Linked DNA regions of Homo sapiens. The gene in region 2 interacts genetically with the main gene of each other region. Each region holds a gene or a part of one and is shown on either strand. Other genes may lie near its edges. The genes, in order: NOTCH1 and HEY1.

Region 1 (9,036 bases), on a different chromosome or scaffold from region 2:
CCACAGGCCACCTCTTCCAGGCAGTCTACCCTGATTACCCCAGCCCTCCCCTAATGAGACTGAACAGTGCATGGGCCTATCAGGTTCAGTTTTCTCCACTGGGCCAGCTCCCAGCCAGGGCCTGGTGTGTGGCAACACTCGTGCCGGCCACAACCCTTACCCTAGGAGGGACCCCCACCTTGCAGGAGTAGCCGCCCAGGTAGTCCGTGCAGGTGGCCCCGTTCTGGCAGGGGCTGGGTGAGCACTCGTCCACCAGGTCCTCACAGTAGCTGCCTGTGTAGCCCGCCTGGCAGCGGCAGTGGTGCGTGTTGCCCGCGTCCACACAGAGCCCTCCATGCTGGCACAGGCGGGCAACGTCAACACCTGCGGGGGATGGGGTGGTAGACAGGTGAGGCCCAGGCCCACAGAGGACCTTGATGGGCTGGGACCCGAGCTGGGTGGGCACAGCAGGTTACCTTGTCGCTGCGCAGCCACCTCACAGGACACGCTGGGCACGTCGCAGTAAAGGCCGGTCCAGCCGCTGGGGCACTCGCAGCGGTACTGGGTGTGGGTCTGCCAGCATTTGCCGCCGTTCTTGCAGGGCGAGGAGTCACACCAGTGCACAAGGTTCTGGGGACAGATTGGGGTCAGCTGGGTGCCCGCGCCCCGGCCATTTCCCCGGTAGCTCAGAACGCACATCTGCCAAGGGGCCTACTCCAACCCAGGCTGCAACCCATTCTACAGAAGTGGAAACTGCCGCCCCTGGACTCCCCACCACCCCCACACCAGGAACAGCCTGGGCTGGGTCTCCCTCAGGGCCCTCAGCAGGTCCAGACCACCCTCGGCCTTTGCTAGAAGGAACACTTTTCCTCAATTCCCCAATTCCTGAGCTCCTGCCCCGGCTCCAGAAACCTGGGATTGAAACGAAGGTGCCTGCTGCTTCCGCATCAGGTTCCTTCACCGGCTGCTCAGATCCCCAGAAACCCTCTGCCCGGGGGTGTGGGGGTGACCCCGAGCCGACACAGTGGGACCTGGGGTGACCGTTCCCACCTCCCGCAGGTAGGCACCCACCCAGGGCCCCTCCTTCGGGCACCTCTGTGGCCGGCGCACTCACCTGGCAGTTGGGGCCAGTGTAGCCCTGGGGGCAGGTGCACCTGTAGGAGCCGCAGCCGTCCTGACAGGTGCCGCCATGCAGGCAGGGCTGTGAGTCGCACTCATTGACATCGTGCTGGCAGTAGCTGCCCGTGAAGCCGGGTGGACACAGGCAGGTGAACGAGTTGATGCCGTCCACGCAGGTGCCACCGTTGAAGCAGGAGCTGCAAGGGGGTGGGCAGGCGGGGGCTGAGTGGAGGGCATTGGTGGGTCCCCGCTCCAGCAGATTCTGCCTCGCCAGCACCTCCCCTTCTGCTCAACCCTAGGGGCCTGATGGCCAGGACAGGCCCAGGGCAGCCTGGCTGACCCAGGGAGGCCAGTGGGAACCCGGGGCCCGGCTCTCACACCACGTCACACCTCCCTCCCCTGCTTTCTTTATAAGTCAGGTCGAGAGTGGTTTTACCAAACGCGTGGGCATAGGGTGGTTAAAGTAAATGAGGGAGAAACCAGAAACCGTCCTGGTAACACGGGAGGTAATTACGTCAGAAACCAGGGACGAGACTGACGTTTACCAAATGAGCTTCCTGGCAAACACGGCAAAAAGGAAACAAGAACGGACAGAGTTCTCGTTGTCTAATAGAAGGAAGCGCACCAGTTCTTCAGGACAGACTACCGGCGCTCCTGGTGCGGGACACAGGAGGAGGTCACAATGGCCCTCTCAGGAGGGACAGGTCGGTACAATGAACAATGTCTGGACTCAATGCAGCCAGCGCTAAGTGCCCAGCCGGCCTAGGCGGACGCCTGCATGGTGTGCCAGGCTGCCAGCTACTGCGTGTGGCCCGCACCGCCCGTTCCCTTCCACGGCCTCACTCGAGCCCCGCACACCTCTCTGTGCAGTCAGGCGTGTTGTTCTCACAGTGGATCCCGCTGAAGCCTGCGGGGCAGGTGCACGTGTAGCTGTCCACGCAGTCCGTGCAGTTGGCCCCGTTGCGGCAGGGGTCACTGGCACACTCGTTGATGTCCTCCTCACAGAAAGTGCCCCGGAAGCCGGGCAGGCAGTCGCAGAAGGCCGTGTTGATGCCGTCTGTGCAGGAGCCCCCGTTGTGACACGGGTCTGGGAGAGGACGGAAGGGTGAGTGTGAGGGGCAGGCACAAACCCACACCTGCGGGAGGGGGCCGGGAAGGCTGCATGGCTGGGGACAGCCCAGCCTTTCGTTGCCGAGGCTGCGGCAAGCAGCCCTGTGACAAAGGTGTCTGGTGGGGAGCCCCAGCACCCACAGGCTGCGTCACACCCGTCTCCTGTGCTTGGGGTCTCTCTCCCCACCTGCTCCTGTCCTCAAGCTCCAGGGCAGGGGGCAGCTTTGCAGGCTTCACAGACCGAGCAGGGGAGGAGAGACAGTTCTTGCCTCTGCCTGCCAGGTGATGCCAGCAAGACCCCCGGCTTCTGCCAACCTCAACCTCTGTGAAGCAGGGCTGGGAGGCCTGAGAGCCCTGGCCTGCAGCGGGGCCCGATGAGCCAGGCGGGAGTGCAGGCCGGGCCCGAGCCATCCTCGGCTCAGTGAAGAGCCGTGGGAGGGGCTCTCGTGACTCTTCCGCGAAGTGCAGGGAGGAGCAAGCCGGCTCTGGGGCCCTCCTGAACCACCCTGGCCATCCCTCAGCACATCCCCCACACCTGACCCAACCCTCCCCGGCCACACTCCGGCCTCCCTGGGTGCTTATGGCCAGCACCATGCGCACCAACCCTGCCCGGGGGAACTGAGGCCTGAGAGCTTCCTGGAGGAGGCCAGAGCCGCGGGGCTACTCACTGGGCCGGCAGTCGTCGATGTCGGTCTCGCAGTTGCGCCCACTGTAGCCGGCCTGGCAGTGGCAGCGGTAGCCGCCGTGGGTGTTCTGGCAGGATGCGCCGTGCCGGCACGGGCTCAGAACGCACTCGTTGATGTCGACCTCACAGGTCTGCCCTGCGGGGCAGGAGGAGGCCGGTTGGTCACCAGCGGCCCCTGGCCCTCCAGGCCCTTCCCAGGCTGGCCCACCCACCTACAGTGCCTCTCCCGACCCAGGAGTAGGCTTCCGTGACCCCAGGACCATCCCCTCTCCCCTAATTTTGGCCTAAGAAGGTCACAGGAACTGGAGTTGGGAACGGTGCTCCCAGGTCAATTCCTGATTCCAGAACTTCTCCGACCAGGGCCTCCTCAGCACCCACCAGCTCCTCTTCAAAGACTCATCTAGCCTGCCTGGGAGCTGCCTGTGTCCCGCAGACATCCTGACCTCCCATCCCAGCCCTCACCGGGCCCTGGCCAGCCTCACCTTGCCAGCCCGTGGGGCAGACACAGGAGAAGCTCTCATAGTCCTCGGATTGCCTGCACTCCCCGCCGTTTCTGCAGGGGCTGGGGGCACACGGGGCCAGCACCACCTCACACGTGGCACCTGCGGGAAGGAGACACACGTGACCCCGGGAGCCTCACCCAGAGGGATCTCCCAAATCGGCCACCGCCTGCTGGTCTTTCCGCCATCAGAGTGCCGTCTGCTGGTCCCGCCGGGAGGCAAATGTGCACCGAGACCCCTGAGCGCTCCCGGCTGTGCCAGGACCCTGACCCAGGGAGGAGTGGAGCACAGATGGGGGGACGCTGAAGACAAGCTGCACAAATGTCACGCTCAGAAGCCACCCCTCATTCCCGGTTGGCAGCGGGGCACAGCCTAGGCCTCACCCCACCAGGCGTGCCCAGGAACAAGGACTGCACCAGGAGAGGCGGCCTCAGTCGGGTGGGCTCCACGACACTGCAGGGACCTGGGCCCACCCCGGACGCAAGCCCCCTCATCTCTGGGTGACGAGGAAAGGCCCTGGCCTGAGACCGAGGCCTGAAACTAATCCTGGGGCTCCGTGTCACAGGCAGCAAACGCCCATCACGGGAGGCCAACAAACAAGGGCTGCGATGGAGGGGACAGGCCCAGGCCCCCAGCACATCCTGCGTGTCGGGGCACGGGGCACGGCCTGGAGACCTCCAGGGCCACGCAGGGTGTCTGGCAAAGGCTATGTGGGAACCACGTGCACAGCCGAGGGCCTTTTTCTGCACAAGCCCATGGCCGAGCTTCCTGTTTATAGCCGTGGGGACTGCGTTATCTTCCCTGTCCCCCATTATCTCCCTGGCCTGCTGGGGCGACTTTCCAGGGCCTCTCTTCCTATTGGTTTCCACGGTGACCCGGGCAGGCAGGAACTGCGCCAGAGTTTCCGACAATTGTGCGAAAGGAAGCAGGAAGCGGGCAGATAGGAAGCGGGTCAGCACCGCCGCTCCTCCTGCCGGCCCGATCGACGTGTCTGAAAGGGACAGGGGCGCCCAGCCGTGGAGGGAGGGTCCTCACTGACTGACACAGGAGAGAAAACCCAGGTCCTTAACTTCGGTCAAAGAAAACAGCGTTCTGGCCACAGGCTGCTGGATGTCATGGGAACCGCAGGCGTGGGACCTCCAGCCCGGCTGCCTGGCCCAGGCAGGCCCTCCCTGACCAGGCCCCGTGGCAGCACCCTCTGCCCGCTCCTGGGGAGCGCCAGGACCCCGGTGCTTGTGGACTCTTCTTTGTCTTTTCTAGAGGAGATCATTTCCTGTGATCCCCTTGGCTGGGTTCATAGCAGGGGCTGGACAGTTGGGGGAACATCCCCCTCCCCGCTCAGCCCAAACAGAGGGCTCCTTGTTCCGCTCACACAAAGAGAGCCCGCCATCAAAGGAATCCCTCAGGTCCGGCTGGCGGGGGTGGGGAAGCCCGGCCCCCAGAGACCCCAGCAGGGTGGGCGCCGGGAGCACGGAGCCCAGTGACCCAGGCCCGGCCCTGCTAAGGATTCACCTGCATCTTACCTGTGTCTTGCGGCAGGCTTGCCAGGTAAAACACATGCTTGCATGAAAATTTTCTCCCAGGCATCCTGTATCTTTGCTAATCTGCCAACCCCACCCCCGGGAGAAGGCCCACATACTGCAGGGGCCTAAGGCACTCAGTGAGGCGCAGAACCTTCTGGAAGGCCCCGCCCCAAGAAAGCCACCACTTTACCCTCCAGTCACGGCTTCCCAGGCCGCCCCCACCCCTGGCCCCACCCTCTCCAGCACAGGCTCCGCCCTCTCCAGCACAGGTCCCGCCCCTCCCACATAGGCCCCGCCCCCTCCAGCACAGGCCCCACCCACCCCTCACCTGTGTAGGGCAGCAGGCAGTTGCACTTGTACCCGGCAACGTCGTCAATACACGTGCCCTGGTTCAGACATGGGTTGGACGCACACTCGTTGATGTTGGTCTGGCAGTTGGGACCTGGAGGGAAGGGGACAGCACTCGGCATGTCCAGCACTCCCAGGCACCTTGGCAGGGCCCCACAACAGCAGCCCTGGGCCTGCTCCCCACCCCAGGCCCCTCCTCATCTCCAAGAGCCAGAGGCCTGGAGCTAAGGCTTTGCCACGGGAGGGAGACACCATGCATGGTGCTGGCTGGACCTGGGTCCCGATCCTGTGTCTCCAGCTCCCCAGACTCGAGGGCGGCCCTCTGCACTGAGAAACGCGCAGCCCACTCACCGCTGAAGCCCTCCCGGCAGGTGCACACGTAGCCACTGGTCATGTCTTTGCAGGTGCCGCCGTTGACACAAGGGTTGGATTCACACTCATTGTTGTTGATGTCACAGTTGGTCCCACTCCACCCAGGGTCACAGTCGCACTTGTACCTGCAAGGGGGACCACACTGCAGGTCGAGGGAGGCCCGAGCAGCACGGCCGGGGCCTGGGCACTCCCGGGTCTGCAATGCCCTATGGGCTGGCGGAGGTGCCCATCCACTCAGACTCGCAGAGTCCTTTAGTGGGGGCAGGCTGGGCGCTGTGGCTCACACCTGTAATCCCAGCACTTTGGGAGGCGGGGGTGGCTGAGTCACTTGAGGCCAGGAGTTCAAGATCAGCCTGGCCAACATGGCGAAACTCCCCCACCCCATATATACTAAAAATACAAAAATTAGCCAGGTGTGGTGGCACATGCCTGTAATCTCAGCTACTCGGGAGGCTGAGGCAGGGGAATCACTTGAACCTGAGGGGTGGAGGTTGCAGTGAGCTGAGATCATGCCATTGCACTCCAGCCTGGACAACAGAGCAAGGCTCTGTCTCAAAATAAAGAAAAAAGTGGGGGCCGCAGCGCTTCCCATACCCAAGACTGCGGCAGGGGTTTGGTTCATTAGCGAGGGGACCATGCCAAGTGCAGGGCAGTAGGGTGCTGCGAAAAGCCCCCCACCACTTGCCCGCTGTGTGGCCCCGAACAAAGCACGTGCCTTCTCTGCGCCAAATGAGGGCAATGGGGTCCCTGCTGATTTAAATGGTCCCATCCAGGCAGAGTGCTGCCAGGCACATCATGGGCATCAGAAACACTTGCGGCTGTTACCATGGAAACGTGTTCCAGGGTCACTGTGGGCCTGTGTCCTGAGCACACCATGCAGCCCACAAGGACACGCAGCACACAGCTGCTGGGTGTGGACTGTAGTCTGACTGAGGACCCAGAGGCATGTGCGTCCCCGAGGGGAGCTCCCTGCCACCCAGCCCCGTCCGAGGCCCGTTTCTGGCCCATCTCAAGCTCTGTGCAGGTGCCACCCTCCTGGCAGCAGAGCTCCCAGGGTTTAGGACTGATGTGTCCCCATGATCGGCCCCGCCGCATACCCGTTGAGGCTGTCCCGGCAGGCCCCGTGGACGCAGGGGTTGCTGTTGCACTCATTGACCTCAGACAGGCAGGTGGGGTCGTGGTAGCCCTCGGGGCAGCGGCAGGTGAAGCCATTGATGCCGTCCTCGCAGGTGCCCCCGTTGTGGCAGGGGTTGCCCGCACACTCATCGATGTTGATGTTACACATGCTCCCTAAGGGCAGGGCGGGTCAGACTCCGAGGCCCAGCGCCCAGGGGGTCCCACCCACGTCAACCTCGATTTCCCTGTCTGTTGAGCCGGGGCGATCACCCTTCTGGCCACATCCTTCCAGGTGTCAGAAACCATCTTGGATCACAATGTGCCATGTGCCAGCCTCCCCGGGCACCAGTGCCCACTCAAGTCATCCTCCCAGGGGCCCCAGGGGCAGGGGCTACTGCAGCCCTGACTGATGAGAATCTGAGGCCCAGAGAGGCAGAGGGACCTGCTCAAAGGTGCTGGTGAGCCACAGAGGCAGAAGGTACTTAAGCCTGGCCTCAGGGCTGGCTGCTCCCTCTTGGCCTGCTGGGCCACTCTGCCAACACGGCCTGGGACAGCTCTGACCGGAGACAAGAGGGGTCGGGGGGACCCATCGTGCTGCCAGTTATAGCCCTGGTCCCGCTGCAATCTCTGCTGCAGACCACGGTCTGCCCAGGTGGGCAGCACCAAAGCCCTCACCCAACCCCTCAGCAGCCCCAGGGCAGAGTGGCTGACCTTGACCTCTGAGCACAGTGCAGTCAGCCCCCACGTGCAGGGCCGCTCACCTGTGTAGCCCGGCTCACAGGCACACTCGTAGCCATCGATCTTGTCCAGACAGGTGCCCGAGTCGCAGGGGCTGCTGGCACAGTCATCCAGGTTGATCTCGCAGTTGGGTCCTGAAGGGGTGGCACGTGTCGGTCAGTCCTCAGGCCCGCCCTGCCCACTGGCCCCCCGCCGGCCACCCGCCTGGCCGGCCACCTGTGGTCCCCTTCAGGCAGAAGCAGAGGTAGGCGTTGTCGCGGTCCTGGCAGGTGCCCCCGTGGCGGCAGGGCTGGCTGGAGCACTCGTTGATGTTGGTCTCGCAGTGGTGGCCCGTGTAGCCTGGGCGGCAGAGGCAGGTGAAGGTGGCGACGCCGTCCTTGCAGGAGCCGTAGTGGCAGGGGTCGGGGTCGCACTCATCGATGTCCACCTCGCAGTGCGTCCCCGTGTACCCTGGACCGTGGGAGGGGCGGGCACAGGAAGACTTAGGACTGGCGGCCCCCGGGACACCCATGACCAGACCTGGGGTCACCTGTGCCAACCTGAGGAGGGCTCCGAGCGTGGCATTCCCACCTACTCAGGATTGGGGCTGAGCTGTGCTCTCGGCCTCTGGACCAGGTGGCCCAGACCAAGGTGTCCATGACCTTGTCAGTTTCACTGCCCTGAGTGCCCTGTCCCGTCCCCAGTCCCTCCCCGCTGGTGGGCGCCAGCCCGCACCTTCCGTGCACACACAGGTGTAAGTGTTGGGTCCGTCCAGGCACTTGGCACCATTCTTGCAGGGGGTGCTGGCACACTCGTCCACATCGTACTGGCACAGATGCCCAGTGAAGCCTGGGGCCGGGGAGGGGAGGGGAGGGAGTCATGTGCAACAGCACTATGGCCCTTCAGGGACCCCTGGCCAGACCCCAGCAGTGAGCGCCTGGCTGGGCTCCCCAGGGCACACTCAGCCTGAGCTCAGCCAGCTCCAGCTCTCCCTGCCTCCCGCTGCCCGCTCCCCGGATCAAAGCCCCTCCCCCAGCACCACACGCCCTCGCTCCCACAGAAGGGGCCTTTTTCCCAAACCGACTGGGTTGCTATGGCTACAGTGGAGCCGGGCTGAGAATGGGGCTCCCCTCGCTCCAGTGTCTGGGACGGGTAATCTATGTCTTGGGAGCCTAGGCTTGGGCTGGCAACGCCTCCCTGGGCTCTGCGCCCCGGCCCCCAGCTCTGGGACAGATGGAAACACCTTTCACCCAGGCCCCTGAGAGTTCCTCCAAGTCCGCCCCGGGCAGCCATCATCTCCATTGCAGGCCAACCTGCCCCACGTGGTTCTCTGCATACCCTTGTCGCTGGCGTGCCGTTGGGCAGGGGACATGGCAGGACAGGGCAGGCTGGCCTCCCTCCCAGCATCGAGCCCTCAGAAAGCCAGGCTGGAGCCTCCTCCCTGTCTGGGCACTGCAGCTCCTGGTATACCCTTCTCTCCAGGCAGAAGGGGCTGCACCCAGATCAAGGAGGATCTCCTGGCCCTGGGCTCCACCGCGACCCCTGGGCAAGCTCCCACTCCCCACTG
Region 2 (15,217 bases):
TACTTACTGAGAGCCTCTAATGTGCTAGGCAATTTTAAGTGACAGAACTGTAGAAGTGAACAAACCAGGCAAAAACAGATAATAAACAGTCAATGAAGTATCTATTCTGTCAGATAATTCTGGGTACGGTGGAGATAAACAAAAGAAGAAAGGGAGGTAGGGAGAGGCAGATGTGGGGATGAGAGACTGAGAGTGGGATGATTGTTTTAAATAGAGTTGCAAGGAAAGACCTGGTGGGGAAGGTGACCTTTGAGCAGAGCCGCAAGTAGAGATTACAGATAGGTCAGCAGACCGTTGGGGGAAAAGCATTCCAGGCAGAGGGAACGGCCAACACAAAGGCCTGGAGATGCAAACATGTAGAGCACGTTCCCACAAGAGCAGACAGCAAGTGTGGCTGGAGCAGTGAGGAGGGGCGAGTGGTAGGAAATGAGGTCAAAGAGGATGATCAAAGCCTCAGATATGTCATTCTTTAATTTTATGATTCAGTGCTGCATTTATGGAACACCCCTAAGCACCAGAAACAAAACCATGCCCAGGGGAGGCATTTAAAAAAAAAAAATACTAAAAGTAGCTACAGAAACTGTTTGGGTATCAACTCTATCAGAGGTAAACGGCAGTCTCTTTCTGGCTAAAATATAACGTTTTCAAGTCTCTTCTGCTACATCAAGCCATAGATAACCTACCAACCATCTATGATTAAGAGTTTTCAAATTTAGGCATGGTCTTTTAACTTGACTGTAACAAAAAATACCAACATAGGAGTAAATTCAATGGGAAATTTTACAACCAAACTATAAAGAAGCCTAATGTGGCAGTGGATTAACGCAAAATCCAGATACCTGTCTGTGTTCCTCAGACTCATCTCTTAGGGACATTTGTTTACCTTGAATTTTGCTGGGATTTACAGGCTTGGGGGAACAGTTCTGTGACAAGTGCCTATCAATACCTACAGACAGCTCAAAAAGAAAGGCCTGGATTTCTTTTTCCTTGGCTTTCTTCTCGCCTCTCCCCACCCCCCGCCCCAGAGCAGAACACTGAAGGATCTGAGAGAAAAACCCTGCAGCTCATCAAGATCAAGGCAGGCATTATATTTCAAGTTGAAGTTCAAAACAGCTTGCTTTTTGCTGAGACGTCTTACTTCCTGAAATCAGATGATGCCTTTTAGTACTTCAGCGTGCTGAGTCACAAGCGAGCTACACACTCGCTCTTTCATTTCAGGCTGCCAGGCTGAGAACTCGTCTTCCTCCATGGTAAAGGGAATGCAAGGACCCAGTTGAGAACACCTTTGGAAGAGGTTTCTGTGAAGCAGAAACCTCTCTCCTTGCTTTATTTTACCTTGAGGAAATTGGACAGCCCAGAAGTAATTTTTTAAAAAACTCTGCACGTAATCTTTACATAATATCACCTACAGCTGCCTAAAGACTGCAGTGTTGATTTTATTTTAGCTTATGTTTACCCATTTATTGTAGCGTATTCAAAGCACGGATGACAAAGATATTAGAAAATTCTAGCCCTCCAGAGAGCCATTCAGATTAGAGCCCTGGAAGCTGAGAAATAGTTGTTGCCCATGGCTCAGTCTTGCTGGAAGACAGGTTTTGGTGAATTAGTGACTAACCAATAAAAATTGGACAATTTCACATAAAAAATCCAAATTTGGAGATGCCTTTGGAAACTTGAAAGATCTGCTAACACTGGACTAAAATTTCTGCATAGGAACAATCGGCGACTCCTCAGCCAGACCCGGAGACAGAATGGGTGCTGGGAAAATATGACGTCCTCCCTGGGTCATCACTCACCTGATACCACTGCATTCCTCCCCAGTAGTGCCTGTCCCCGTCACATGCACCTGGAACCCTCACCCAGTCCAGCCACTTTGACAGATGAGGAAAGTGGGGTTCAGAGAATCATAATGACTTATCCAGTGTCACCCAATTAGGTAAAAGCAGGAGCCAAAAATCTTTCCAAGATGCTCTTATTCCCTGGGACTCCAGTTGTAAATGAAATTGGGCCACATTTGAAGCAGTGTTTCAGATGATATTAGCTCTGAAGTGATTTTAATTATAAATCATCACCAGAAACTAATGAAGGCATCAAAGCTGTGATACTGGTATAGATGGGAAAGGCTGGGGAAAAGTATAACTAGGAGATAAAACATTTCCTGAGGGATTTCAAATTTAAGTAATCTATATTTAAAATATCATGATTTTAGTGAGTCACAGAGTGGGGCAATGAAAACCTGGATAAAAATCACATCCTCATTTAACTAGACTGAATAAATTGGAAACAATTATTCCTTGGATTTTTAGAGGCTTTTTTAAATACAAGAATTCTGCCCATCTATCTACTTCATCATATTGATTCATGGTAATACATTAAATGAAAATAAATGAGTAATTATTGAAGCCCTTCAAGATTCTTTATAACCAATGATTTATTTTCCTTATAAGGTAAACTTATGCATTCTCTGAAAAAATTTTGTTTATACACTGGTAGATGTATTATAAATGTACATATAATACAAAAATATGCTGGCCCTGATAACCCTGGTGTTATTTTTTTCCTAATTGCATCAACAGAATAGAAATGGGAGTTTTCCTGAATTAATTTTTCTATACACTATTGGTACATAGTCATACTCCATCCTGCTTCCTAGGAAGCTCACACTCCACCTGCACCATCCTCAGATACTTTTCACCTTGAAAGGGCTTGAAAAGAAACCAGAATATTTCCATGGAAAAGTATGTAATCTGGAAATGAACTGCCACGCCTCCCGCTAACCAGATATAGCGATCACTGATGAGACAAGTGGAACATGCTACATGTTTTACAGTTCCACAGCTCTTTCAGCAGAGCCAGCAAATGAGAGGCTTCACTTCTTACCACATTAGCAGCCATCTAAACCTATGTAACAGTAAGAGATAGTCGAAGTACAATGCTGTTCAGTAATGCTGTAATGTCATTGGAAATCGCGGTTGCTAAAATTAAACTGACACTTGGCAGAAATTAGCATAACACTTTCCATCACAGCCTTATGACAGAAAGAGTGTCTGTGTGGCACAGGCAATGCTGAGAGCAGAGCTGTGCATCACAAGAGGGATCGACGTCTGAGGCCATGCAGAGAAAGCTTTGAAGGGATTGGAAACCCACAATCACAAAAATGCTGCAGTCTCCCATCCCTTCACAGGGACACAGAAGTTGAAGCTCAAATTCAAACTCCAAACTTCTCTTTGTCTTCTGACTGTGTTTTTTCACCAGATGGGAGGAGGGGCTCCGTGTTTGGGCAAAGCAAAGGAAGGCTTTATTTTATCATCTGCCAGCATGGGTTTTCTCCGTCTCCTCCCCACCGCCCTCAGGATCAAGACAAACTCCTTAGGAGCACTCCTTAATTGGCACAGGGCTATTTTTAAGGCAATGGGAAGACACTCCTCTCCCCTGGGGCCCAGAATACGCCCTCCATGCTGGCAGTGTTTTGTTCTAACCTAAAGCATATGTCAGCTTCCTCACTACACAGCTCAGGAGTCCAGTGCAACTAAAGAGTTAAATTCCTTGGAAATAAGACCAGTGAAGACTTCTGGAGCTGTGCAGGTGCAGAATTACAGCCTGCCACTGCTCATCAGGCCACAGAGTCCCGAGCCCCTACATTTGGGTCTTCTTGTTTTGCCATTTAAAAAAAATTAATAAAAGAAATAAATTTCCATTCTCTCAGCATAGAAATGAGCACATAGTAGGTACTCTCAGTAAATATTTGTCAAATAGTCAACACGGTTTTAAAATATTTCATCCAAGCTCCTTTCAACCCCTGTAAGTCTCAGTCTGATTTCAGCTTTCCTAATCCACAGATGGCCAGTTTAGGGCCAGATCATCTGACATAAGAGCAAAAGGGCTATGTCCCCTTGTAGGAGGCAGGGCAAAGCTCTCTGCATTGTAATGAAGTCACCTTATTCAACGGCACGAATTCACACAGTTTAGAAGTCCAAGAATAATGAAACTGGTAAACATACAAACCAATCAGGCAAAATGAAAACCAAGGAAAGTTTATCTTTTCTTAGCCAAGAGGGGGAAAGGCCAAGGTATGTAAGACATACACCACAGAATACTTTGTTCTTTCTTTTTTATTTAGTCACAACACATCAGTACAACAGAGGTCAAACCCAGTTCAGTGGAGGTCGTTTAACTACACCTGCTAAAAGAATAAACCTGAAAAATGATATTTTATAGCCCAAATCAAATTAAATAAATCAAAGAGAAGGAGGCAGGAAAGCCCTTTTAAATACCTTGGCAACCACAGTTCCATGCACCAAAAGGAAAACTCACATAAAAATTTCCAGTTAAAAGAAAATATGGCAGTCCCAGGAAAATTAGGTTATGCATTTAACAGTTTCCACTGTACTACTCAATTGACCACTCGCACACCATGATCACTTATCCATGTTAACATTTGTGAATTTGAGATCCGTGTGATTAAAAATTCTTTGTGTTGCTGGGGCTGGTAAATGCAGGCGTATTCTATTCAATTACCTTCAGTTTCCTTTCCACCAACACTCCAAATGAGACCTAACCTATCAGCGGCTCTCTCCTAACTAAATCAGAACTGCCAGTCCTGGCAGATACCAGCAGCTGGTCAGATGGATTCAGGGCCACCAACAGTTTGTACATTCACCTTTCTGCTATAGGAGGCAGACAATTTACTAGTCTTCTTTCTTGGATAAAGCTGATCATCTGATTTGTCAACGCTTTGCTCAGAAATATAAAATTCAATATAGTTCCCCTCCCCCCAAAAGAATATTATTTATACAACACCTTAATCTGTCAAAATATTAACAAACAGAATCATGTTAACATTAAGCATAGTGGTTTGGAAAATTAATTCTAAAAACAGACCATAACTATACAAGGAGAAAAACAGACCAAAAATACTAAATGTTAAGATTCCCCAAATTTTGAGGCAAAAACGGAATCATTCTGGTTTACAAAGTAAATTAGGCACAGTACAAACCTATCACAAAGTGTTGGCTTATACTCACTATTTCAATTTAATGTCTTGAACAAAATTTAACAACTAGTTTTTAAAAACTGCTAATACATGACATGATGAAAAAAACATTAAAAAAGATAAAAGTAAACCAACAAACCTTTAGTCTTTAAAAAAAAAATTATCTGAAAGTGTACCTTTTTCCTTTTTACTTTTACTGACGACTTTAAGGTGATGTTGGCAACAGTCCAGCCCAGCTGGGATTTTAAACTTTCCCCTCCCTCATTCTACATCAGTTCTTTAAAAAGCTCCGATCTCCGTCCCCCAAGGTCTATAGGGCTTGCCAAGGTTTGCAGCCTGCGTGGGTGCTGAAGGGCTCAGTGCATTGGGAGACAGTAAGTGGAAGGAGCCGAAAGAGAAGGGGAAGGCCGACAGGGAGGCCACTGAGGAGAGCAGAGGCGGCGACAGTTTGGAGGCGGAGGTGACCACAGGGAGCACCGGTCCGAGGCTGCCGCTAGGGGGCGCTCGCAAAGCAGGCGCCTCCGGATGTGCCGAGCCCAGCCTGCCCTGGTGGTGCGGTTCCGTGGGTGAGGCCGTGGTGCCCGCGTTCCCGTGGCCGTTCTGGGGCAGCAACAGCGGGTGCGCGATGTGCGGGTGATGTCCGAAGACGGTCCCCCAGGGAATGTGTCCGAGGCCCGCGTGGGCGCCGCTCGCGGCTTCCCGCTGGGAAGCGTAGTTGTTGAGATGCGAAACCAGTCGAACTCGAAGCGGGTCAGAGGCATCTAGTCCTTCAATGATGCTCAGATAACGCGCAACTTCTGCCAGGCATTCCCGAAATCCCAAACTCCGATAGTCCATAGCAAGGGCGTGCGCGTCAAAGTAACCTAAGCAAAAGAACAAAAGAAAAATCTCAGGGCTTTGCCCGTTTCCCTCATTTCTTAAGTCCCAGAGACAGCCCTTCCTGGCAGATACCTGCATCCCTTAAAACACAACAGTCAGGGGTTCTTCCGAAAGTCTTTGGAATCAACAAAAATCTTTGCATTAATCAACATAAGCAGAATGTGTTTGCTAATGCAAGTTCAAAGCCCAATTAGAAGCTGCAGAGCAGAAATTGGAATTATACCCTACCAGCAGATGAAACTATGTTCATTCCTTTAATGTTTTCCCTCAACAACAACAAAAAATACATCAAGGGCAGAGAAACCACAGAGCAGTGAAATTCATTAGACACACAGATGTAAGTTATCATCGCGGAGCTTTTAGGCACTTGGACCTCAGTAAAGCATTTTCCTGCTGGAGAGACATACACACAGACCTTGGTCTCCCGTTAGGTTTCCTTTACTTAACCAGAATACATTTCTTTCCTCAAGAGGCATGTGGCAGCACCTTTTTTTTAAAATCCCGTATACCAAAAATAAGACCACATATTGTTTTTAAATGCTTTTTCTCAAAATAGCAATGGACAAATGTGAAAGCTACCTGATCTGAATCAGGGCTGTCACAACTTTTGAAGACCTCACAAATAATAGGTATTTTTCCAAAAGATGCACTAGCTCAATCCGCAGAGAGCTGGGGTGGTGAATTCACTGGAGAAGATTCTATGTGCATTCGAAAATGTACTGACAGGGAACTGCACACACCACACACCGTTCTCTCCCCACCCCCAAAGAAAAATCAGGCAGCTACTGCACCAATCCTGGCCTTCAGCCGCTGCTCACTCTTTGCCAACCATTCAGAGCCCCCACTAGGTCTAGGAGATGTACCTTTCCCTCCTGCCGTATGCAGCATTTTCAGGTGATCCACGGTCATCTGCAGGATCTCGGCTTTTTCTAGCTTAGCAGATCCCTAAAGATGAGAATGGCAAAAGATTGATTTGGCACAAGTTCCTTTGGGGAACAATTTAAAATATGCAAACATATATACAAAGATACATGCTTTGTAAATCGTAAAGCATGGACTAAAGCAAAATCAGTTGTCTTCACAAAATACGCTGGTATCTGTGTACGAATTCATCTAGGCACAAGCAACACAGCTATTTTCCAAGGCGGATGAGATTAATGAGGGGAAGATTCAGAAGGTGCAGATAGCTATGCTGAGAGCTTTACCTACTTGCTCCATTACCTGCTTCTCAAAAGCACTGGGTACCAGCCTTCTCAGCTCAGACAAACTGTTATTGATCCGGTCTCGTCGGCGCTTCTCAATTATCTGCAGAAGGCAAGCAAAACAAAGGAAGGCATTACCATTACGACTGTAAATTTCAAAGACAAAAAAAAAGGTGGTTATTTCCGTTAATCAATAACAAAAATAAAAGGAGAGTGTAAAGAGACTCACTCCTCTCCGTCTTTTTCTGGCCAAAATCTGGGAAGATGTAGTTGGGGACATGGAACCTAGAGCCGAACTCAAGTTTCTGAAAAGAGAAAAAGAACAAACAAAAACTGAAATCGCCGTTAAACGAGGAGAGGTGATCTGAGAGGTCGCCCCCACACCCTCCCCGCACTCAGACTTTTTTTGCCACTTGGGCTGGAAGGCACCTAGGGGTTCCCTGGCCGCAGGCTGCCGCCAGCCTGCGACGCGCGGAGGTCAGCGCAGGGCACCGGCGCGCCAAGGGTCCTAGCCCGCTGTCACCGCGGCAGGCCTGCGCTCGCCTCCCGCTCTGGCTCGGCTCCGCTCCGCCGCCGCCAGCTCACCCATTCTCGTCCGCACTCTCCTTCTCCACCTCGATGGTCTCGTCCAGCTCGCTGTCCGAGGAGCTGTACTCGGGGTGAGCTCGCTTCATGCTGGCTCCCTGGGGGTTCCTGGGGAGGGTCGGCGCGGCGGGCAGGGAGGAGTTAACTACAGCGGCGCCTCTCCGCTCTCGGCTGCTTGCGTTCCGCACACACTGATCCCGCTCACGCTTTGCCTCTGGTTAAAACTCAACCATCCTTTCCCACGCTGAGCCCCTTCCCAGGGCCCTGGGGAGGGCGGGGGAGTGGGGAAGGCGGGCGAGGGGGCGGAGAGGCGGGGCGGCAACTCCAGGGCAACAGCCGCCCCCCGGCCAATCCGGTTTCTCGCGCCGCTGATTGGCAGCCGCTCCGGGGAGGGGCGGGAGCGAGGCCGAGGGCTCTAGCGGACCGCGCCCCCGCCCTCCGCGCCCGCCCCTGCCCGGCGGCGGTGCGTCGGCTCCGCGGGGGCTCTGTCCAGCCTGCACTCAGGGGAAGGAGGAGGCGCGGGCGGCGGGGAGGCGCGGGAGGCCGGGCCGGGACACAAGCCCGCCGGCGGCCGCGGCTCCTCCCCGCCCCGCGCGCCCCGATTGGCCTGGCCGCGCGCCAGGGCCGAGCCTGCAGCGCCTCCGGTGAGCCGCACGCGCCGCGGGCCGTGGGAAAGTGCCGGCGCCGCGGCCGCCAGCCAATCCGGGCGGCCGGCGACGGCGACGGCGGCGGCCGCGCTGGCGGCGGCGGCGGCGGCGCTGGGCGTCCGCATGAATGGAGAAGAATGGGCAGGCGGGGAGCCGGGCCGCGCGAGGGCGCGCCGGCGGGGGCTGGGCGGCCGCCGGCCGGGCCCCCAGTGTGAACCTGTAATCGGAGCCTGGGCGCCGGCCGGCCTCGGAAGCCGCCGCCTAGCGCCACCGTAAATCTCGCCCGCGTGGCCGCCAGTGCCCGGCGGCTGGAGGCGCGCGCTGTTAGTGGGGCCGTGCCGGGTGCACCTGGCCGGGCTGCGCGCCGGCGGCTCCGCGGAACCCGCAGGGAGCCGGGAGAGGGGGCGCCGGGCGCGTCCACAGTGGCCACCAGCCCAGGGGCCGGTCACATGGAGGAGCAAGCTGTGGGCTCAGGGGACGCTCTTTTTGATTTCTGGGACCGAGGCCGCACATGCAGCCAGACTCGTTTCCGCAGGGGCTTCCCAGCCGCGGAATGGAATGAATACCCCTGTGCATCTCATTTCCGGGGAAGGGGAGCACTTGTTTTTTCGGCCGCCTTGGGGAAAAAAAAACCCAACGGTCCCTGGGAATAATCATTATGCTGGGATTTTTTTGTTGTTCCCCCGCTGCCCCCCCCCCCGCCCCCTCCCCCCGGCGGCCAGATCCTCTCAGCGGGCGACAGGGTGGCGGTGCTGGCGTTTGCGTCTGAGGCCGGCCTTGCTGAGGGAATGCACGTCTCTGGCCCCAGACACACACCTCTGGCTTCGGTGGCTTGGCGTGGCGTGTACTGGGTGCCACGTGAAGTCCCCCCCGAGTCCACTAAGAAGACAGATTTTTTAAAAAATACAGTTGTAAATCTCGAAACTGATTTCTGATTCCAGAAACAGAATGGTTGTTTTAAATTTGAAAATCCGGTCTTCTGTCCCTTACAAAGGTACACAGCAATTCGCATTCATCTCAGATCCACTCTGAAGCTTGTAGTCCTGTCTGTGAGGGAAAGCTTAATATCCATCGGTGAGAATAACAAAAGGCGTTTTCTCTTTGCAAAAAGCTTCCTGGTTTCTAGACTTCCTTATTGATCTCAATGCTATTTTTTTTTTGAGATGGTGTCTCACTCTGTCGCCCAGGCTGGAGTGCAGTGGCGCGATCTCGGCTCACTGCAACCTCCGCCTCCCGGGTTGAAGCAATTCTCCTGCCTCGGCCTCCCCAGAAGCTGGGATTACAGACGCGCGCCACCATGCTCAGCTAATTGTTTTTGGTATTTTTAGTAGAAACGAGGTTTCACCATGTTGGCCAGGCTTGTCTCAAACTCCTGACCAAAGGTGATCCGCCTGCCTTGGCCTCCCAAAGTACTGGGATTACAGGCCTAAGCCACCGCGCTCGGCCTCAATGCCATCTTAACACATCCTGGATGCCAAGCACTCTGAGTGGCCGGCCTGGGCCTAATCCATAGTTCCTCTCTGGGCACCCCCATCCCTCCACCACCGCCCCCAACGGGAAATACAACCTCCTGGCTCCCACTGAAGCTTATTCCACTTCACATCACCTCCAGCCCTGAGCCTTTCCATGCAGCCCCTCTGCTTCCCTGTCTAGGCTGGGCCCTTCCATCAGCCAGCCTGGGTTTGTTGCTGCTGGCACCCCAGACCTCTGGCTTCCTGAAACTCCACCGCATGCTGCCTGTTAGTTGTCAGTCCGAGGTCAATCCCACCAGCCGACTTTCTCTCTGGAAGTGCAAATTTTAAGGCTCCTTCCTGGCCCTCCCAGTCTTCAGTCCAGGGCATCCATCACTACTTCCTGCCTCTTCCCTCCCAGAAACTGATGGTCCAGGCATAGGAAACCATCCCACCTGCTCCCCTCTGCCTTCCAGAAGTCCCTCTGACCTTCCATTTCTTTCCCCAAAGTGACAGGCCACCCTTCCCCAGAACCAACGTGTCTACTTCCCCTCTGGCTCTATAGATTTTCCCAGCCTCTGGCACCTACAATGAGTCAGCCTTTCCTGCTTTGGCTCATTTCTGCTGCTGTGGAGAGGCGTGGACAAGCTGCAGATGTTGAGTGAGACGAGACCGGGTGGGGTTAGGGATGCTTAACTCTACATTGGCATCCAAATGAAATATTGCTCACATGTTCATGATTACTTTTATGTCAAAAAGGAGGTTCTCTACGGCCAGGCGCAGTGGCTCACACCTGTAATCCTAACACTTTGAGAGGCTGAGGCAGGAGGATTGCTTGAGTCCAGGAGCTCCAGATCAGCCTGGGCAACATAGCAAGATCCCCATTTCTTAAAAAAGAAAATTAAAAATTAGCCAGGCATGGCATGCACCTGTAGTCCTAGCTTCGTAGAAAGCTGAGGTGGGAGGTTTGCGTGAGGCCAGGAGTGCCAGACCAGACTGGGCAACACGGCAAGATCCCCATCTCTAGAAAAAATTTAAAAATGAACCGGGCATGGTGGCCTGTGTCCTAGCTACTCTGGGGGCCGAGGCTTGAGCCCAGGAGGTCAACGCTACAATGAGCTATGATCATTGCACAGCACTCCAGCCTGGGTAACAGAATGAGACTCTGTCTCTAAAAAAATTACAAATGAGGTTGTCTTGCTTCTTAAGTTTGACTGATTTTTCAATGCTTCCAATAAATACGTATTCTTCTATGTGCCATGTGCTGTGCTAGGGCCTGAAAACACAAAGGTGACCCAAAAGTCATCCATCTTGCACTCCTAGAACTCACATCCTAGGGAGAAGACAGAGAATACACAGTAAAGTAGTTATGGATGCTCCAGTGCTTGGAAGCACTTGTTGGTAAGGAAAAACGAGGGGGTGAGGATTCTTTATGAGGTCTGGGAAGGCCTGTTCTGAGTTTGGAAGGGACTTAAGATCAAGAAGAGGTGAACTAGGTGGTTCAGTAATAACCGGGAAGGAAGGGGCGGAGACCTCTTCCTTGAGTGGTGGGATCAGAGGAGAGAGTTACACTGAGGGCACCAGGCCCAATTTTCTCCCATCTGCTGTGTAGAAGGGATTTACCCCTGGAGGCTTTGAGTGAAGAACGACTTTAAACATCTTTGCTACCCTGAATGAAAGGTACGTCCTGCAAATTGACCCCTTCTGCAACTTAAATGGGACTGCCCAGGCCTGGCCCCTCAGGAAAAGGACCTTTTACCATTTGGGGGTGGGGAAGTGGGCAAGTGTTGCCTTTTATAATTCGTCTCTCCTGAAGAATCACCCTTTTTTATTTCGCTCAAAGGCCTATTTTCTTGCCTGGTTTGTAGAGTCTGGGTTCAGTTACTTAGCTTACCGTTCCGCAGGCTGCTTTTATCTGCGTTCCCTTGCAGAAGAGATACTCCAGATGTCCTGGAAGAGAGAGACACTCCAGATTTAGGAATTCACTCGAAAGGCCAGGCCCAGGTGAGGGCCTCCCCAGAGGAAAAGTGGTAGAATCTCCAGGGAGGAACAGCTCATCCTCAAACTCCAGCTGCAGCATTTCTCTATGAACGAGGCTTAGGGTGGCCAGCTTGTTGGAAGGGATGCAACCAGTAGCTGGGTGTGAGACTGGCCTTGAGGAAGCCCCAGTCGTCAATTATTCATTCATTAGAGCTTTGGCCACTGTGGAGGTCCCTACTTGGATACCCTTCATGAGGCCCTGTCTCTGTCAGTTTGCTGGTGGGTGCAGGTGATCTCAATTGAACAGGCATGGGACATAGTGCTCAGGAGGACCAGAGGCTACACCTGCAGCTCTGAGAAAGAAGGGGCTGCCGCTCTCTCTAACCTCTTAGTCTAATTGCTGTACCATTCTGAGGCAAAGGTCTTTGTCAAAACAAGTTTTAGGTAAAGCTAGCCAGTGGCTGGCTGAAACCTTTAGGGCTTGCTTGCTTATGTACTTGCTTGACAAATTTGTATAAAGCCCCTAGTCTGTGCTGGGCACTGAGCCAGGCCTAGAGCAATCAGGCTGAAAAGCCACAATCTCTATCAAGCTGCTCACAAGTTCTTCTTAGCTACATGATATTTAAGCCTCAATAATCTTATCTGTAAAATGGTGATATTGGCTGGGCGCAGTGGCTCGCGCCTGTAATCCCAGTACTTTGAGAGGCCGAGGTGGTTGGATCACGATGTCAGCAGTTCAGGACCAGCCTGACCAATATGGTGAAATTTCGTAGATATTTTTATCTACTAAAAATACAAAAATTAGCCGGGCGTGGTGGCGCACACCTGTAATCCCAGCTACGTGGGAGGCTGAGGCAGGGGAGTCGCTTGAACCTGGGAGGCAGAGGTTGCAGTGAGCCAAGATCGCGCCACTGCACTCCAGCCTGGGCGACAGAGTGAGACTCCGTCCGTCTCAAAAAAAAAAATGGTGATATTAGTAATAGTTATTTTCCAATGTCACAAATTAAATATGATCAATTATATGAAGCACTTTACAACAATACTTGGCCACTAGTTAGCACCCAATAAACAGCATCTGCTATTATTGGCTTTTAATATACCTTCTCTGCCCATGAGTATATAAACTCTGAGCACTAAGTTACTTTTGTGTTTTCTTCTGATACTCTGTTACACGTCTAATGAGGTTGAAAGGCAGTATAAATAATTATGTAGTAATTGGATATATTAACAGAATCTCTAGAAAGTAATATCCTTTTAACATCAGGAGAAGGAAACAGTGCTTCTTGTTAAGAGCACTAGATTATTTTGAGTAATATAAGCATCTGCTATTCATTATTAGTGAAAGTTTTGCTTTTTGAATCTAAGAAACATCTCCTGAGCATGTAGCGCTATAATACATGTATAAGTAAGGAGTGTACTCATGGAGTTCAGAGATGGCTCCTTCATGAGAACACAAGGAATTTTGACTAAGTGACAGTTTTCCTTTGTTCCTCATGCTTGCTGCTTTCTCTAGATGCAGCATCTCAAACACCAGATTGCTTTGTGGCATGTCATGCCATGCAAAAGTGCACTTCCACTATCAACTTTCCTAATTGAGGTCAGATGTGAGATGCCTTGGTGTTTGCCTTGAAGGAATTGTTTAATTGGAACCCTAACAGGCAGTGGTATGGTACAGTGGAAAAAGCAGGGATTTCAAATCACCTGCCTGGGTTCAAGTCACTCTTTACTAGCTGTGTGACCTTGAGCTTATCATCACACCTTTACCCTCTGAACCTCAGTTTCCTCATCCATAAAATAATAGCTCAGCGTTCATTTTGTTTTTCAAAAGATAAGATGAGACAAAGCATTTTTTCAAGTGCCAAACAAATGTTATGCCTTATGCTTTTAAGTTACGGTGATGATGATGATGATGTGAAGAATATGGGATGCTTCTTCCTGAGCCTTGCTGGACCATCAAGGCTGGAACTCCTGGCCTTCTTCCTGAGCCTTCCTGAGCCTCTTGTGCCTGCCAGTGAATTCCCTCACAATGAGCAACTCCATCTTTTAAAATATACATATATATACATATATATATATTTAAAATACCAACATGCATTTCACAAAACATTAATTTCTCAAGATGCTTTGTAAATAAAAGAATCTGTTTCCAGATACATCTGGAAAACCACCTGTAAGATCTCGGGGCACATTACAGCATGAAAAGCTCAGAGACATTCTTAGTAAAGAAGCCTTATTTACATTTGTCTAACCCAGCACTTCCCAAACTCACCAGTTACAGCACCTTTTTTCTTCACATAACATGTGCTAATATTCCATTGAAACGGCATACCAAGGAACACACTTTGGGAACTTGTCATAGCGTAAGGGTAGATGCATTTTGCTTTTGGTTAAAGATGACTGACCCACAAAAAAATTAATCACAAATGAAAACCAACTTAATACAAATTATTACTAAGTGCTGAAATATAACTTTTGCTGAGTAATTTATCGTCACCCATCCCCCTCCCATCCCCAACCCTTCCGAGTCTCCGATGTCTATCGTTCCACAGTCTGTGTCCATATGTACACACTATTTAGCTCCCACTTATAAGTGAGAGCAAGCATCTGACTTTCTATTTCTGAAAGTTCTTTGCTGACTAATCAAAGAGACCAATTACTTAAAAGTAATTTATATTACCTTTTAAATACTTGTAATAACAAACACCTTCATAGCACTTCATGGCACCATATACCAGAAACAGTTTTTAGAACTTTACATATAACTGATTGAATTCTCACAGCAACCCAGGAAAAGGGAGGTATTATTTTCTCCAGTTTTAGAAAAGGAAGCCTATGCAAAAGGAAGTAAGAGATTTGCCCAAAGTTGTATCTGAATCTCTGCCATTGGTTTGATTCCATGACACCCTCTTTCCCTCAAAGAATAATTTACAGTGTATTCTTTTCTCAGTTAAAATGATACAAACATTAATATACAGCATACTTTTCTCAATTAAGCTAATTAAAATAGTAATTTGCAGAATATTTTCATACTTTAAATAATTCAACTAGTTTTTATTTTTACACGTCCAAGACAGCTCGAGATATAAATGAGATAAATCTTAGGGTGTCCTAAAGCAAGCTGGAGAATGTCACTCCCTGGACTTTGTACCAAGTTGCATTTAGTGGAAGTGAAGCCTTGTTTCCTAGGTAGCCTGGATGCTGAAATAATACTGCAACAGTTGGGGTATATGACTTCTTTGGATTTGGTTTTCAAGTATTTCATAATTTACTACTTTTTATGTTCTTAGATATTTATTATAAATAAATCCAAAATGATTTTAAATTATTAAAGTTTAAAGTATATGCCTTTGGCACCACTAGAAAAAAAAACTTGAAAGTATAGCAGAAAGTTCCATGTGAGCCCCAAACTGGAATTCACAGACTCTACATCTTTGAAACTAGAGGCTGCTAATCCACTAAGTGATCTGTTTGCCTGAACTG

What was found.
Region 1: changes in HEY1 (region 2) and NOTCH1 together harm fitness more than expected from each alone (negative genetic interaction), as found in Homo sapiens cells (one study listed by BioGRID).

Annotation. Positions count from the first base shown.
Region 1 is NC_000009.12:136,507,777-136,516,812, forward strand, and holds part of NOTCH1 (neurogenic locus notch homolog protein 1 preproprotein), read right to left. Parts: intron 8,319-9,036; coding exon 8,205-8,318; intron 7,941-8,204; coding exon 7,707-7,940; intron 7,625-7,706; coding exon 7,514-7,624; intron 6,927-7,513; coding exon 6,734-6,926; intron 5,762-6,733; coding exon 5,616-5,761; intron 5,359-5,615; coding exon 5,245-5,358; intron 4,966-5,244; exon of another isoform or gene 3,496-4,965; coding exon 3,376-3,495; exon of another isoform or gene 3,254-3,375; intron 3,030-3,253; coding exon 2,877-3,029; intron 2,204-2,876; exon of another isoform or gene 2,186-2,203; coding exon 1,957-2,185; exon of another isoform or gene 1,697-1,956; intron 1,296-1,696; coding exon 1,094-1,295; intron 610-1,093; coding exon 456-609; intron 364-455; coding exon 179-363; intron 1-178. UniProt on the Homo sapiens protein: Functions as a receptor for membrane-bound ligands Jagged-1 (JAG1), Jagged-2 (JAG2) and Delta-1 (DLL1) to regulate cell-fate determination.
Region 2 is NC_000008.11:79,759,916-79,775,132, forward strand, and holds HEY1 (hairy/enhancer-of-split related with YRPW motif protein 1), read right to left. Parts: upstream 7,853-15,217; 5' UTR 7,749-7,852; coding exon 7,660-7,748; intron 7,380-7,659; coding exon 7,304-7,379; intron 7,178-7,303; coding exon 7,094-7,177; coding exon of another isoform or gene 7,082-7,093; intron 6,818-7,081; coding exon 6,736-6,817; intron 6,561-6,735; exon of another isoform or gene 6,349-6,560; coding exon of another isoform or gene 6,288-6,348; intron 5,857-6,287; coding exon 5,273-5,856; 3' UTR 4,095-5,272; downstream 1-4,094. UniProt on the Homo sapiens protein: Transcriptional repressor which binds preferentially to the canonical E box sequence 5'-CACGTG-3'. Downstream effector of Notch signaling required for cardiovascular development.